2 separate regions of the Homo sapiens genome follow, and region 2 is linked to region 1. The links come from fine-mapping of genetic effects on gene expression. Tissue or cell type: tibial artery. Region 1 holds a variant in brackets; the other region holds the start of a gene. All regions are shown on one strand. Distances are from middle to middle.

Region 1 (8,088 bases):
GTGGCGGCCGCACAGGCCCGGGGGCACGGGGCCCAGGCGCCGGCGCTGCGTCTTCTCAGTCAGCCTGGCCAGGGCCCAGTTGGGTCGCAGCGCGGCGGGCGCCGATGGGTGCCGACATTCGGGGCAGGGGAACGGGCCGCCGCCCGGCGCCCAGTTGCGGTGCAGGCAGCCGCGGCAGAAGTTGTGGCCGCACTCGATGGACACCGGGTCCTGGAAATAGTCCAGGCAGATGGGGCAGGTCAACTCCTCCTGGATGTCCTCAGCTTCCATGCTGCTTCCCTGCCGCGGAGACGGAGTCCGACGTGAGGCGCGGGAGAGGCCAGCAAGCTGCGAGCGGCCGCGGGGAGGCCAGACGACTTCCGAACCGCCGTCACCGCCTCACGTAAAAGGGTACAACGCAGTTTCTCTTCCGGGGTTCAGGACCCAAAAAGAACGCACGGACGTTGCCCGGCCTGAGCGCGCAAGACCGGAAGCTGCTGGGTATCCGCGCCGGAACCGCGAGGGGGTTGGTTCAGGCCTAGGCGCGGGGCAGGACGGGACCGGTGAGTGGCTCCTCCAAACAGCTATAGAGACCCAGAAATGCCTGTGGAAAGCTACAGAGGACTTGGGCAAGGCGTTAGAGCCGGACGTTGTGGTCCCTGGGGGAGCCAACCGGGGAGGTGCCTATGATCTTTCTTTCCAAGTTTGAGGGTTCAGGTCTGTGTTCGCCTGCTGGTTAGACCGATTTAAGTTTTAGAGTCCCAGGAGTTCTGGGCGAGCTGCAGCCTAGGGGCCTGGAAGGCCAGGAAGACTTGAAGGATCTGTGTTGGTAGGCCTGGAGTTTGGCTAACGTGGGGATGATTTGGATTCTGAGATGCAGATACATTGCCTTTTTGGTATCCAATTTGAAAAGTAGCAACCATTTTGCTATCCCAAAGAACATCCATGGAGGCTTTCAACAAATAATATGCTCACCTGTTTCAGGGAATTATCTATATCCCTTAAGTGGATTTTCGATCTTGTGTTTCTGAGGTGCTTTGCTTTTTATTCTTCCCACTTTCTTCCTTTTCTTGTGAATATTTGTTTAAAACAAAAAAAACTCTGGACTGACAAATTTAATAGAAGCTATTTGCACAAAGAACAGTTCATGAATTGGGCAGCACTCAGAACCAAAAGAGGTTCAGAGAGCTCTGTCCAGCAGTATGACCTGCTAGCTTTTATAGGAAGCAAAGTAGAGAAATCACCTCATTAGCTAACATCTAGGTGTCTGCCTTATTTGACAATGATATGATGAGGCATTTGCCTTATTGGGGCATGGTCTGATCAGTTGGCTGTCTGTTATTTGCTGAAGCTCGGCCGTGATTGGCTGAAACCCAGCTGTTATAAAAAATAAAGTAAGTTAGGCTTCAGTTCGTTTACATACTAAGTCAGGTTGTATTTTGTTATATGGGAACTCAAGTACCAAGACAGCCTCAGGCTAATGGGCTTTTGCTTATTTAACAGATTTTTCATTCTTTTTATGTCCCAATATCAAATACTGCCTTTCCTATAATAATTTTTCTCAGTAAGTAGTATGATTAAATGATTAGAAAAAGGGGTTCTTGAGGTATCTGTTTGGGGGTTATTGATGAAAGTTCCACTGAATATTTCTAAAACATTTAAATTGGACAACTAATGAATGGATTTTCTTTGCAAATTGGAATACTCTATGGAGAAGGGATCTGGTTCTTTAATAGGGACCAAGCAGGAAGGAATGCTCTTAACAGTTACTGATGTTTACCATGAGTGTTTATGGCATCTGTGTGTCTATATGTTTACCTAAGTATTGAATGAGAAGTTTCAGCATTCCTGCAAAGTATTTATTCCCCTTACAGTAGTCATTTAAATCTTTTCAGGTAAATCCCTTAAAATCCTTATGTCTTTATTCCTGCCATACCAGAGATGACCTTCCTTCTTTACTAAGTGAGGCTCCCTAATTAACAATTTTTCTCCATCACAAAATGTCTATAAGTCTGTATACCAGCCAAGGTTCATTCAGAGAAGTGGAATCACTATGTTTCTTTATGTTCGCAGGGCAAGCAGTTAAGAAGGGAAGATGAACATAAAGTAGGGAAGAGCAAAAATGAGTTGGAACCTAAGACACGAGCTGGTCATTCTTTCACTGTCTCCAACTTTAAAGATATGAGTATCCTTGCTAGAGGAGCTGACACTTTTTGCCACAGGACTAGACACACACACAGCTCAGGAATCAAAAAAGGTGAAGGAAGACTCAGGGAAAAGCTTCTGCCCCATCCCAACAAGGTGAACCAGCTGATTGGTGACAAAGTAGATGAGCCGCAGTAGCACCTAGTGTCCCTGCACCACCGTTTCAAGTATAAAACTGGAGGGATGCTTCAGTTCTCCCCTTCAAGACTTACACAACCATGTCTCTGTTGGGCTATTCTAACCAGAAACAAAAGGAAAGGAAATTCTGGGAAACATAGTTTAGCTTAGCAAAGTTGATATATTACAAAATTACCACTGTCCACTCTGCATCGAGTTGACATCCATACAGACCTCTTTAAAACACACTTTCAAAATAAAGTCCACACCCTACACATAAGCTATCTCTAGAGAAATTTGAAGTCTGTTGTGCACTGAGGATAACCACAACAACAAACTGTAAACCTAGCCCAATTTCTGACTAGACTGATACCACCGAACCACTGCTATGCACTCAAGAGCACTAAAGGCCTAGCAGAAGGAAAGACACACTCATCTCCAAGCATAAAAACAATCTTTACTTCATACTGTGAAGAGAGAATTGAAAAAATAATTTAAGCAAAAAAAATACAACATGACTAACTTTTAACAGAAAGAAAAAAAGACGCATACAGAAAGGCAAGAAAAAACACAGTCCAAAGAGATAAAACAATCATTAGAACCAGATTCATAAGACATAGACATTAGAAATATGAGAGAATTTTAAATAACTGTGATTAATGTGATGAAGGCCCTAAGGGGAAAGGTGAACAAAATGCAAGCTCAGATGGGTGATTTTAGCAAATAGATGGAAACTATCAGGAAAAATAAAATGGAAACTATAAAAATAAAAAATATAATAATAGAGATGAAGAATGCCCTCCATGGGCCCATTAGGAGACTGAACACAGTTGAGGAAAAAATCAGACTTGAAGGTAGGTAAATAGAAATTGCTGAAACACACACACACACACACACAAAAAGAGTGACAGAAACAGAACACAGCATCCAAGACTGGTGGGAAAATATCAACATCAAATCAAGAAATAGGCGCAGTGGCTCACCCCTGTAATCCCAGCACTTGGGGAGGCCGAGGCAGGCAGATCACGAGGTCAGGAGATCGAGACCATCCTAGCTAACGCAGTGAAACCCCGTCTCTACTAAAAATTCAAAAAAATTAGCCGGGCATGGTAGCAGGCACCTGTCGTCCCAGCTACTCGGGAGGCTGAGGTAAGAGAATTGCGTGAACCCGGGAGGCGGAGCTTGCAGTGAGCTGAGATCACACCACTGCACTCCAGCCTGGGCGACAGAGCAAGACTCTATCTCAAAAAAAAAAAAAAAATCAAGAAATAATGGCTGAGAATTTCCAAAATTTGTAAGACACCAAACCAATCCAAGGAGCTCAGAGAACACAGAGCAGGATAAATTCTTTAAAAAGAAACTAAGCTTATTGTATTCAAACTAAGCTTATTGTATTGATACCTGGTAGTTATAACTTACCAAATACACTGCCCAACATCTCCAGATGATCTATTATTTCTGAAAGTTTCCTTTATTACATTTCTTACTTCAGGGAGATATAGCCTTCGCTTCATGTTATGGTTGGTGCAGTCAGTATTCTCAGAAAGAAAGTACTGGTTCCATTTTACCTCCATCTTTTGTTTCCTGTCAGAAAACCTACCATACCACCAAGTACTCCTTCTCTACACTGCCTCTGATATTTAAGTAATTTGAGAATTCTGTTGAGACTATCTCCCTTTTTTGGTATGATGAATCTGGTCCTAAATTGCATGCCAAAGACTTTGAGAACTAAACTGTAGACCCAGATCTCATGTCCCAGACTGGCCTTTTGTTACCCACACAATGAATGGGTTAAATTGCTTGGCAGGGGACAGTCCAATGACCACAACCAAGGAGGATTTCCCAGGGGGATTTTATTACTTGCGATAAGTAAGGAGGACACTGGGAATAATTCCCCAAAGCAATGCCTCCCTGAGCAATGGTGCAAACATGGCTTTTATTAGTCTGGTTAGCTGAGTCATTGTATGTAGAGGTGGAGTCAAGGCAGCGCAGTCCCAGTTGTCGGTTATGCTGCTACATATGTCACATGTATAGAAAATGGTGAATAAGCTCCTCCTTGGACAGGATTTTAAGTATGGTGATGAGGAAAGTTGGCCAAAGTTCATCTCCAACTCAGGCATCTCTGGGTCCAACTGGTCTTTGTTTTTCCTGGGCTAAGCTTCTTCCTGGAACTTTTTAAAACAAAAATTCAAGATGTAACAGTTACAAGTGTGTAACTTTTTCACAGTGC[G/A]TACCCAAAACCCAAGGACCCTGGGTTACACTTTAGGTGCCACCCATGTGGGACCTATCAGAAGAGTACTACAAAGGCTTTGAAAACTGAACTGACATTGGAACCACAACCCTCAGAAGGCTGGTCAAAACTTATGACTTGAACCCAAATGGGTTAATTACCCTTTAAAACATAAATATCAACATCCTCCACCAAATTTAACCAAGACCCAGAGCATCCTAATGACATTCAAAATGTCCAGGATACAATCGATATTAATTGGCAGGTGAAGAACCAGGAAAATCTCAACTCACGTTGGGAAAAAATGTAACAGATGCAGAATGTAAGTTGCCACACATGTTGGAATTATCAAGACTATAAAGCTGCTATTCAAATGGAAAGTTTAAAAGTCTCAGAGAAGTAATAGAAAATACAAAGAATAGCCCCATGGAAATTTTAGAACGGGAAAATACAAAAACCGTCATCACATCATATCCGGGGCACATGCTGTCAACATTGCTCATCACTGTTGATGTTAACCTTGATCACCCGGCTGAGGTAGTATTTGATGGGTTTCTCCCTGTAAAGTTATTCTTTCCCCTCCCCCTATTTTACTGTTTAGTGGGAAGTCACTATGTGCAGCCCATGCCTAAAAAGGGAGTAGTTGGTGGGCACGGTGGCTCACGCCTGTAATCCCAGCACTTTGGGAGGCTGAGTGGGTGGATCACCTGAGGTCAGGAGTTCGAGACCAGCTTGGCCGACATGGTGAAACCCCGTCTCTGCTAAAAATACAAAAATTAGCCAGGCATGGTGGTGCACGCCTGTAATCCCAGCTATTCAGGAGGCTGAGGCAGGAGAACTGCTTGAACCTGGGAGGCAGAGATTGCAGTGATCCTGCCATTGCACTCCAGCCTGGGCGATGAGCAAAATTCCATCTCAAAAGAAAAAAAAGTGAGTAGTTATATTTCCCCTCCTTGCGGTGGAGTATCTACATTCTTCTGCATGAGAAATTTGTCAGTTATCTCCTATTTATTCAATTATTTATATTATGAATTCATGGATTCCTATTTTATACTTTGGGTATAATCCAATACTATGTTGTTTATTTTACTGCTCAGATTATTCCTGTGTTGGCCATTGGGAACTTTTTCAGTTGACATCTGTGTCCCTTTGACAAACTCCTGTCATTTTGTGGGGAAGAGGGAGTAGCACTTTCTTACTTTCTACCGCTACAAAATCCTCCAGTCTTATCTTGTATTTCTCTTCCCTAACCCTAAAGTCAATCATTCTCATTTCTCTAATGATAAATGATGTTAAACATCTTTTCATATGCTTTCTTATTATCTGTATATCTTCTCTGATGATTACCAAGGATGGGAAGGGTAGTAGGGGGAAAGTGGAGATGGTTAATGGGTACAAAAAATAGAATGAATAAGAATTAGTAGTTGATAGCACAACAGGGTGATTACAGTCAAAAATAATTGTACATTATAAAATAACTAGTATAATTGGATTATTTATAACAAAGGCTGAAGGCTTGAGGTGATAAATACCCCATTTACCCTGATGTGACTATTACACATTGCATACCTGTATCAAAATACCTTGTATACCCCATAAATATATAACCTACTATGTACCCATTTAAATAAAAAAAGTTTTTAAAAAAGAAATAGTGCTGAGACAATTGAATATCCACATGCAAAAGATAAAGTTTGACATTTATCTTACACCATACACAAAAATTAACTCAAAACCAACCAGAGACCTAAATGTAAGAGCTGAAACTATACAACTCTTATGGAAACATAGGCATTAATCTTTATGGCTGTGAATTAGGCAATAGTTTCTTAGGTAATACACAAAAATCATAAGCAACAAAAGAAAAAATTGGATGTTAGACTTCATTAAAATTTAAAACTTTTGTGCATCACTATCAAGAAAGTGAAAGACAATCATAGAATGGGAGAAGATATTTGGAAATCATACATACAATAAGTATCTAATACCCACAATATATAAAGAGCTCTTACAATGCAACAACAAAAATACAAAAAACTCTATTTATAAATGGGAAAAGGATTTGAATAGACATTTCTCCAAAGAAGATATACAAATAACCACTAAGCACATGGAAAATGTTCAATGTAATTAGCCATTAGGCAAGTGCAAATCAAAACTACAATGAGATACCACTTCACACCCACTAGGATGGCTAGAATTTAATAGATAAATAAAAAGTATTCCCACATTGCTGGTAGGAATGTAAAAATAGTGCAGCTGCTGTGGAAAAGAGTTTGGCAGTTCCTCAAAAGTTGAAACGTGGAGTTTCCTTATGACCCAGACATTCTATTCCTGGTTATTTATGCAAGAGAACTGACAACATGTGTTTACACAACACTAAAACTGGGGCCAGGTGTGGTGGCTCAGGACTGTTGTTCCAGCACTTTGGGAAGCTGAGGCAGGCAGATAACCTGAGGTCAGGAGTTTGAGACCAGCCTGGCCAACATGGCAAAACCCTGTCTCTACAAAAAATACAAAAATTAGCTGGGTGTGGTGGTGCGCACCTGTAGTCCCAGGTACTCAGGACGCTGAAGCAGGAGAATCGCTTGAACCCAGGAAGTGGAGGTTGCAATAAGCCAAGATCACACCACTGCACTCCAGTCTGGGTGACAGAGTGAGACTCCATCCCAAAAAAAAAAAAAAAAGTGGTACACATATGTTCATAGCAACAGTGGTCATAAGAGCCAAAAAATGGAAACAACCCAAATGTCCTGAAACTGAAGAATGTATAAACAAAATGTGGTATCTCCTTAAACAAAATGTGGTATATCCTAACAGTGGAATAACACTCAACCATATAAAGGAATGTAATACTGAAACATGCCACAACATGAATGAACCTCAAGTTATGCTCAGTGAAAGAAGCCAGACATGAAAGACCACATATTGCATGATTCCATTTGTATGAAAGAGTAGGAAAACCAATAGAGACAAAACCATATGATGGTTGCATGTTTTGGGTGCTAATAAGAGTTTGAGAGTAACATGAGGGGGTAGGGTTTTTTTAAGTTGATGAAAATGTTATTAAATTGGTAGTGTTGATGGATATACAACTCTGAATATACTAAAGGCTATTTAATTGTATACTTTTGTCACTGGTAGAGGATAGTGACTGCAAGTTGTCCAGGTTCTTGGCGTTTTGAACAAGGAATTGGACAAAACTCCTAGCAAAGCAAAGAAAGGATGAAGCAACAAAAGAACGAAAGCAGGGATTTATTGAAAACCAAAGTACACGCCACAGTGTGGGAGCAATCCGAGCAGCGGTTCAAGGGCACGGATACACAATCTTCTTGGGTCCCAGTACCCACTAGAAGTTTCCCTTTGGCCAGTTCATGCTTTGCAGAAAGCAACCAATCAGAGGCTAGGAAGAAGTTACGAAGTTGCAAAGGAAGACTCATCTGCAAACAGCCTGATTTGTTGGGGACAGGCAATTTCCCATCTGCTGCACAGAAAAGGTGGGGGTGTTGCAAAGGGAGTAGCCTCTGGTCCTTGTGTTACTTAGGCAAGGAAAGTTA
Region 2 (8,088 bases), 480 kb before region 1:
AGTAACAAAAGGCAGAAAGAAAGAAGTGGTTACAAGTATGGGCCCAGGCCAGGCGCGGTGGCTCATGCCTGTAATCCCAGCACTTTGGGAGGTCGAGGCTGGCATATCACTTGAGGTCAGGAGTTTGAGACCAGCCTGGACAACATGGTGAAACCCCGTCTCTATGAAAAATACAAAAATTAGCCAGGCTTGGTGCTGTGCGCCTGTAATCCCAGCTACTCAGGAGGCTGAGGCAGGAGAATCACCTGAACCTGGGAGATGGAGCTTGCAGTGAGCTGAGATTGCGCCACCATACTCCAACCTGGGTGACAGAGTGAGACTCTGTCTCGAAAAAAAAAAGAAAAGAAAGAAAGAAAAAGAACAGGCCAGGGGCGGTGGCTCATGCCTGCACTCCCAGCACTTTGGGAGGCCGAGGCGGGCAGATCAGTTCAAGACCAGCCTGGCGACACCCCATCTCTACTAAAAATACAAAAAACATGAGCTGGGTGTGGTGCTACACGTCTAATCCCAGCTACTGAGGAGACTGAGGTAGGAGAATCGCTTGAACCCAGGAGACGGAGCTTGCAGTGAGCTGAGATCGCGCCACTGCACTCCAGCCTGAGTGACAGTGAGACTCTGTCTCAGAAAAAAAAAAAAATAATAATAATAAATAAAATAAGAAGTATGGGCCCAGAGGTTAGAAAGCCTAGGTTCAGGTCAGACATAGCTCACTGCAGCCCCACCCTCCTGTGCTCAAGCGATCCTCCCATTTCAGCCTCCCGAGTAGCTGGAACTACAGGTGTGAGCCACTATGCCTGGCTAATTTTATTTTTTGGTAGAGACAGGGTCTTGCTATGTGCCCAGGCTGGTCTTGAACTCCTGGACTCAAGCAATCCTCTCGCCTCGACCTCCCAAAGCACTGGGATTACAGCAATGAGCCACCATGCCCAGCCTAAAGTATTTTAGAGTCTGGTTATATTAGAAGGTTGCGATTGGAAAAGTCTTACAAGTGATGGCAGATTGAACAGATTAAAAACTAGGCCCAGTAGGTCAGGAGCGGTGGCTCACGCCTGTAATCCCAGCACTTTGGGAGGCCAAGGTGGGTGGATCCCCTCAGGTCAGGAGTTCGAGACCAGCCTGACGTGGTGAACCCTATCTCTGCCGAAAATATAAAAATTAGCTGGGCGTGACAGCGTGCCCCTGTAATCCCAGCTACTTGGGAGGCTGAGGCAGGAGAATCACTTGAACGTGGGAGGCAGAGGTTGCAGTGAGCCAAGATCGCGCCATTGCACTCCAGCCTGAGCGACAGAGCAAGACTCCATCTCAAAACAACAACAACAACAACAAACAAAAAACTAGGCCCAGCAAGGGGAGAGACTTGCTGGGGTCCTGCAGCAGTGCAGTGGGTGAGACTGGCCAGCTTGGGCTGGGCTGGCTTTGAACTCAGGTCCATGTAACGCATTGATGATTGTCCTGACCAGCACCTTTTGTGAAACTAGTGCAGGGGGCCTTTATCATTCTGCATCTGGCAAGCCCTGCCACTCCTTCTTACAAGCATGGTGTTTATGTAATTTTCTTTTTTGTGGAATGGGGTCTTCATGTTGCCCAGGCTGGAGTGCGATGGCACAGTGGAGTGCAAATGCACAATCACTGCAACCTCCAACTCCTGGGCTCAAGTGATCCTCCTACCTCAGCCTCTCAATTAACTAGCACTACTGGTGCACACCACCATACCTGTCTAATTTTTTGTATTTTTTTGTAGAGATGGAGTCTCCCTATGTTGCCAGGCTGGTCTAGAACTCCTGGCCTCAAGCAATCCTCCAGCCTTGGCCTCCCAAAGTGTTGGGATTGCAGGCGTAAGCCTCCATGCCCTGCCTTACGTGCATTAATTACAATACACAGAATTACAAAACAAAAAGCAATGATATTGAAATGGCATCAAAATGCTTTAAAAACAAATTTCTGCTATACTAGTATAGATGCTTATTTTCAATGCATGAAATAACAAGACCCTATCATAATTTCTTTTCTTTTCTTTTTTTTTTTTTGAGACAGTCTCTCACTCTGTCCTCAGGCGTGACCTCGGCTCACTGCAATTTCCGCCTCCCGGATTCAAGCGATTCTCCTGCCTCAGCCTCCCCTGGAGCTGGGACTACAGACGCATGCCACCAAGCCCAGCTAATTTTTGTATTTTTAGTAGAGACAGGGTTTCACCATGTTGGCCAGGATGGTCTGGATCTTTTGACCTTGTGATCCGCCCGCCTCGGCCTCCCGAAGTGCTGGGATTACAGCCGTGAGCCACCGCGCCCGGCCGACTCTATCATAATTTCAAAGCAGTAATAAATGTAAGTGACAGCTTAAGATACCACCTTGTAGTTGCTGCACAAACTGGGTTTTTTTGCGTCTCACTCTGTCACCAGGCTGGAGTGGGGTGGTACAATCTCGGCTCAATGCAACCTCTGCCTCCCGGGTTTAAGCCATGCTCATGCCTCAGCCTCCCAAGTAGCTGGGATTACAGGAACGCGCCACTACTCCAGGCCAATTTTTATATTTTCAGTAGGGACGGGGTTTTGCCATCCTGTCCAGGCTGGTCTCGAACTCCTGACCTCACGTGATCCTCTCGCCTCAGACTCCCAAAGTGCTGAGGTTACAGGTGTGAGCCACCATGCCTGGCCCTGCACAAACTGTTATCTGGAACTATCATTTACACTCACCCTCACAGTTTCAGGCACTGCTAAGGCTGCTCCAGCAATCAGGAAAGGAAATGCTATACTTCACATAGAGAAAAATAGGGGTGCATTTTGTTCCTACACAAGCTCATTACCCCACCCTGGTTAAAAAAAACCCTGAATTAGGCTGTATAGTGGCTCATGCCTGCAATTCCAGCACTTTGGGAGGCCCAGGCAGGAGGATCGCTTTGGGCTTGGGGCCAGGAGTTCGAGACCAGCCTGGGCAACATAGCAAGACCCGCCACCCGCCCCCCCAACCCCGCCGTCTCTACAAAAATTAAAAATAAAATTTTAAAAATTAGCCAAGTGTGGTGGTGCAGCGTCTGTAGTTCCAGCTACTCGGGAGGCTGAGGTGGGAGGATCGCTTGAGTCTGAGAAGTTGACTGCAGTGAGCTATGATCGTACCCCTGTACTCCAGCCTGGGCCACAGAGCGAGAAAAAACCCTGAATTAGAGACACGCTGCGGCCGTCCTTCCTCGGAGAGACCCGCCCCTCCTCAGAGGCCCACCCGGACCCTCAGGCCAACGCCGACCCCTCTCCACACGGACTTCTGCAGCCTCAGTTTCCCTCCTCAGACGCCCCCGGCTCCAATCCCGGCTCGGGCACTTCCTTCCCCTCTGGCGTGTCTTGGCCCGGGTCCCGGGGCTCCTGCGAGGATCACACAGGAACTCACTTGAAGTGTCCGGCGCAGTGCACTCCGACGGGGAGCCCTGCCCGGTCCCCGCGGCGAACCAGTCTCTTCCTCGGGTCCCCCTCTCCCCAAGCGCGCAGGCGCAATCCGCGTCGCCGACTCACGCGGCTGGTTTCAGGTTTCTGGCGAGGCCGGTGTTCGGCTGGCGGCTAGCTGGGACTAGCGGAACGGCGGAGTCTCGATTGGCAGTGCCTGGACAGGCGCAAGGGCCGGCGCGGGCTCCGGGCGCTCCCGGCATCCCTCGGGCGGCGGCGGCGGCGGCGGCGAGGCGAAGCGAAGGAGGAGTGTGTGCGGCGGGGCCGGCGGCGGGTAAAGGCGAGAAGGCTGCAGGAGACCGAGGGGGAGCCGGGCCGGTGGGGCCGCCGCCGCCGCCATGCAGGAAATCATCGCCAGCGTGGACCACATCAAGTTTGACTTGGAGATCGCGGTGGAGCAGCAGCTGGGGGCGCAGCCGCTGCCCTTCCCCGGCATGGACAGTGAGCGCGGGGCCCGGGCGGGAGGGCAAGAGCGACTCGAACCCGGGACCCGCTCCTCTGTGATCCCGGGACTCCCTCGCCTCGGTCCTGAGACCTCCCCCGGCTTCCTCTGGATCCTGGGACCCCTCCCCTTTGGTCGCAGGACTCCTCCCTCTAGGTCTTGAGAGTCCCTCCCACCTCCTCCGGGTCCTGGGATCCTCCCCTTTAGTTACCGAACTCCCTCATCTGTGGTCCCGAGACTCTTCCCACTCCATCCTGAGACCTCCTCTTCTGGATCCCGGGACGCTCCCCTTGGTTTCAGGACTCCTGACTCCCAGGCCCCCATTTCCACCGTCTGGGGACTCCTTTTACCCTCACTCGGACTCAGGAGTTCACTGCCTCGGATCTTTGGCCCTCTGCGGCTGTTCAAAGGTAATCTGTAGGAGGGTAGACCTTGTCTGTTCGCTTAATTCTTGAATAAGGGTGGGTTATCCTGGATTGGAACTCTCCCTCAACACTCTCCCAACTGCAGGAGAGTACTAGGATATCACACCCGCTACGTTGAGCGTCTCTTCTTGATTTCATCAAAACTAGGCGGTTGGAGGAGATGTGCTGAGGGAAGGACCACCTTTCTGTAGGAGACCCCAGCTAGACTCTCAAACTCCCTTCTAGGACTCACTCTCCTGGGAGCTCATCCCTAGTTTTTGGCCCGTCCCTACTTTTTTCTGGACCCCAACTCTGAGTTATTCATCACACCCAGCAGCTGGTGTGGACCCTTGGCCTGAACTCCCTTCACTGCTCCCCTTCATATGGTGGCTCCTGGCTTCCCACCTCCTACTCGGTGGGATATCTTGTACTTTAAAAGAAACCAGTAGTTTTCTTTGTGTCTTCTTTCCTATCTGGACATACTTGAAATCTAATGCTATAACCTTAAAGTTTGGGGGCTTGTGGAAGTCACTGAGTTCAATCCACAGATGGGGAAACTGAGACCCAAGCGGGGGAAGGGACTTGCTGACAATCACTCAGTGCATAGCAGAGGCGGGCAAGCTCTCCAGTGTTGTGTGCTGTCGCCCACAACTACCAGCGGGGTCTCCCACCGCTCCCAGCAGCCTCACTCCCCTCAGGCGGTCACACCTTCTCATGCACATGTGACCTCTGAGTCTGTCCCTTTATGTGTTTTTGTTGTTGTTGTTTGTTTGCTTTTGAGACAGGGGCCCCTCTGTCGCCCAGGCTGGGTGCAGTGACGCAATCATGGCTCAATGCAGCCTCGACTTCCCAGGCTCCAGCAATCCTCCCACCTCAGTCTCCCAAGTAGCTGGGACCACAGGCATGCACCAACACGCCTGGCAAATTTTTTTGTGTGTATTTCTTGGTAGAGACACTATTTCATCATGTTTCCCAGGGTTGGTCTTGAACTCCTGGGCTCAAGTGATCCTTTTACCTCGGCCTTCGGAAGTACTGGGATTATAGGCATGAGCCACTGCACCTGGCATATATATATATATATATATTTTTTTTTTTTTTTTTTTCCTGCCTGTCCCACAACTTTACATGGTGATAGTTCTGTACAAGATAGTTTCATTGGAAATTAATTAAGTCTTCAAGAAGACAAGATAGTGCTTATAAGGAGACATCATCAGACCACCCTATTTGACACAGGCACAAACACCATCACCACTGTACACTCCCTAAAAAGCAGCTGCTCAAATTCACACACACACACCCCCTCTTACCTACCCCTCGACTCTTGTGATCATCCCTGCACATGTGGCCTTTTCCTGTCTTTTTTTTTTTTTTTTTTTTGAGACAGAGTTTTGCTTTTGTCACCCAGGCTGGAGTGCAATGGTGCGATCTCGGCTCACTGCAACCTCCACCTCCCAGGTTCAAGCAGTTCTGCTGCCTTGGCCTCCTGAGTAGCTGGGATTATAGGCGCCCACCACCACGCCCAACTAATTTTTGTATTTTTAGTAGAGATGAGGTTTCACCATGTTGGCCAGGCTGGTCTTGAACTCCTGACCTTAAATGATCCACCTGCCTCGGCCTCCCAAAGTGCTGGGATTACGGGCATAAGCCACTGTGCCCAGCCGGCCTTTTCCTGTCTTGATGGCACTAGCTTGAGACCATGGAACCACCCACGCAGGGCAGCTCTTTTCCTCCCACCCTTCTGCCATCTGACACATCCACAAGCCTGTGAGGGGAGGTACAGTGGCGAGGGGCCCACATACCTGTTCCTGAGGCCCGGGACACACCTAGCCATGGGTGTTGCTCCAGCCAGGGCTTCAGAGTCGGTAGGCACCCTCCACACTCGCTGCTTGTCCATATCCTGTTCAGTTAAAGCCTAGTGAGGCCACAGCCCTTCCTCACCCATCCCTCCTCTTCATCCCCATCTGAGTTTTGGGAAGAACTGTCACTTTGCCCATAAGGCATACTCATCCTATCCACATGAGACTCAGTTCCCAGAACTGTGTATTTCTGAGCAGAAGCAACTCTAACCTCTAAAGAGAGAGACCAGAAGTACTTTCAGAATTTTTTTTTTCTTTTTTTTTGAGACAGAGTCTTGCTCTGTTACCCAGGCTGGAGCACAGTGACGCGATCTTGGCTCACTGCAACCTCTGCCTCTGGGTTCAAGTGATTCTCCTGCCTCAGCCTCCCAGGTAGCTGGGATTACAGGCACGTGCCACCATGTCTGACTAATTTTTGCATTTTTAGTAGAGATGGGGTTTCACCATATTGGCCAGGCTGGTCTTGAACTCCTGATGTCAAGTGATCCACCCGCCTCAGCCTCCCAAAGTGCTAGGATTACAGACGTGAGTCACCGCACCTGGCCACTTTCAGACTTTTTGAGATGCAAATGGAGTGACCTCCCTGTGACAGCCATAAGTTCTATAACCTCAGCTGTGTCCTAGCAAAATCTGCTTGCTTCCAAGAAGCCAAGGAATCTTTTGTGATTTAGCAAGGGGAGGCATGTTAAGTGGGCTTCAGAGATGCTGTCATTGGTTTTTCAGCAATTCTAAAATGGTTACTTGTAGAGGAAACTGTTTCTGATGCCAAGGTCAGTTTAGTCTGGCAGCTGGGGCTGGTGAATTCCTGGACTCATCAGAACAGCTGGTCCCTGGAGCCCACTGAATTCCAGCACACTCCGACTGTGGGAATGAAAGGCTGTGCTTTTTTTTTCTTTTCTTTTCTTTTTTATTAACAAGCAACATAATCGGCCGGGCGTTGTGGCTCACACCTGTAATCCCAGCACTTTGGGAGGCCGAGGCGGGCGGATCACGAGGTCAGGAGATCGAGACCATCCTGGCTAACACGGTGAAACCCCGTCTCTACTAAAAATACAAAAAATTAGCTGGGCAAGGTGGCGGGTGCCTGTAGTCCCAGCTACTCGGGAGGCTGAGGCAGGAGAATGGTGTGAACCCCGGTGGGGCAGAGCCTGCAGTGAGCCGAGATCACACCACTGCACTCCAGCCTGGGCAACAGCGAGACTCCGTCTCAAAAAAAAAAAAAAAAAAAACAAAAAACAAGCAATATAATCAAAAACAAAAACACAACAACCTTAAAGCTGAAACAGCAATAAGTCAAACTGCCGCGGCAGTTCACAGTTTTACCTGGGGTACCTGCTCCCTCATTGCAAGGCAAGACTGCATTTAGTATATATGTGACCAAGAAGAATGAGAGAAGTGGAAAACACTGGAGAACAGAAAGTATCAAGAACCTTTCATCAGGCAATGCCAAAGCGCTCTGCTCTTTTCCTCTTCTTTGCCTCTGTATCCTCTGTGGTTCCAGTTCCAGCTGAACTTGTGACAATCCCAAATCGCTCCTTCCTCTTTTTCAGTTTCTTATCATCTTCAGACTTTCTGGAAATTGAAGAGACATTCAAACCAAATCTTTGAGCTCTTTCCTTCGGCTTATCCAAGTTAACCATAGGTGTGTTCAGATGACAGACTTTTGTTGGAACTGAAGAAATCCCAAACCTAGCTGCCTGAGCAGCTTTCTTACTCTCCAAGCTCACAGGTACACTGAATTGTTCGGCCCTCTTCTGCATTCTCTCAGCCTGTGGTATTTCAGATGTAATTTTCACCACTTTCTTCTCTGCTGCCACATCAACAGTTTTTTTCAGGGGGTTCTTCCTATTTGACAAGGGGTTTTTTTCTTCTTCTGTTTCATCTCCTAGTACATCTTCATTTGCCTCCTCTTCAGCATGTTCTTCAAGATATGCCTGGAGTCTGTGGATAAG

Direction of the effects. Alleles are on the strand shown, and positions count from the first base shown. SD is a standard deviation of normalised expression in the study named.
With allele G in place of A in region 1, the expression in tibial artery of the gene that starts at base 3,633 in region 2 is lower (moderate effect, 0.45 SD a copy in GTEx).

What was found. PIP is the estimated chance that this variant, and not a neighbour inherited with it, causes the effect.
Region 2: it holds the start of CPSF4, and the variant in region 1 is fine-mapped to the expression of CPSF4 in tibial artery (GTEx, PIP above 0.99).

The regions. Positions count from the first base shown.
Region 1 is chr7:99,919,132-99,927,219 of GRCh38, forward strand. TRIM4 (tripartite motif containing 4) reads right to left here and starts at 399. Exons shown (of 6, transcript NM_033091.3): 1 at 1-399. The coding sequence starts at 270. GJC3 (gap junction protein gamma 3) reads right to left here. Exons shown (of 2, transcript NM_181538.3): 2 at 4,135-4,472. The coding sequence ends at 4,414. LOC101927610 (a long non-coding RNA gene) reads left to right here and starts at 472. Exons shown (of 2, transcript XR_001745296.3): 1 at 472-696; 2 at 2,053-6,183. RefSeq lists a silencer at 1-130 and enhancers at 261-310, 341-420, 661-770. The variant G/A (reference allele first, on the strand shown) is at 4,532.
Region 2 is chr7:99,435,311-99,443,398 of GRCh38, forward strand. It overlaps CPSF4 (cleavage and polyadenylation specific factor 4), which reads left to right and starts at 3,633. Exons shown (of 8, transcript NM_006693.4): 1 at 3,633-3,875. The coding sequence starts at 3,773. All of the region lies in intron 2 of ATP5MF-PTCD1 (ATP5MF-PTCD1 readthrough), which reads right to left. PTCD1 (pentatricopeptide repeat domain 1) reads right to left here and starts at 3,488. Exons shown (of 8, transcript NM_015545.4): 1 at 3,382-3,488. It also overlaps the pseudogene LOC100131859. RefSeq lists silencers at 1-129, 3,628-3,927 and enhancers at 1,256-1,781, 3,078-3,367.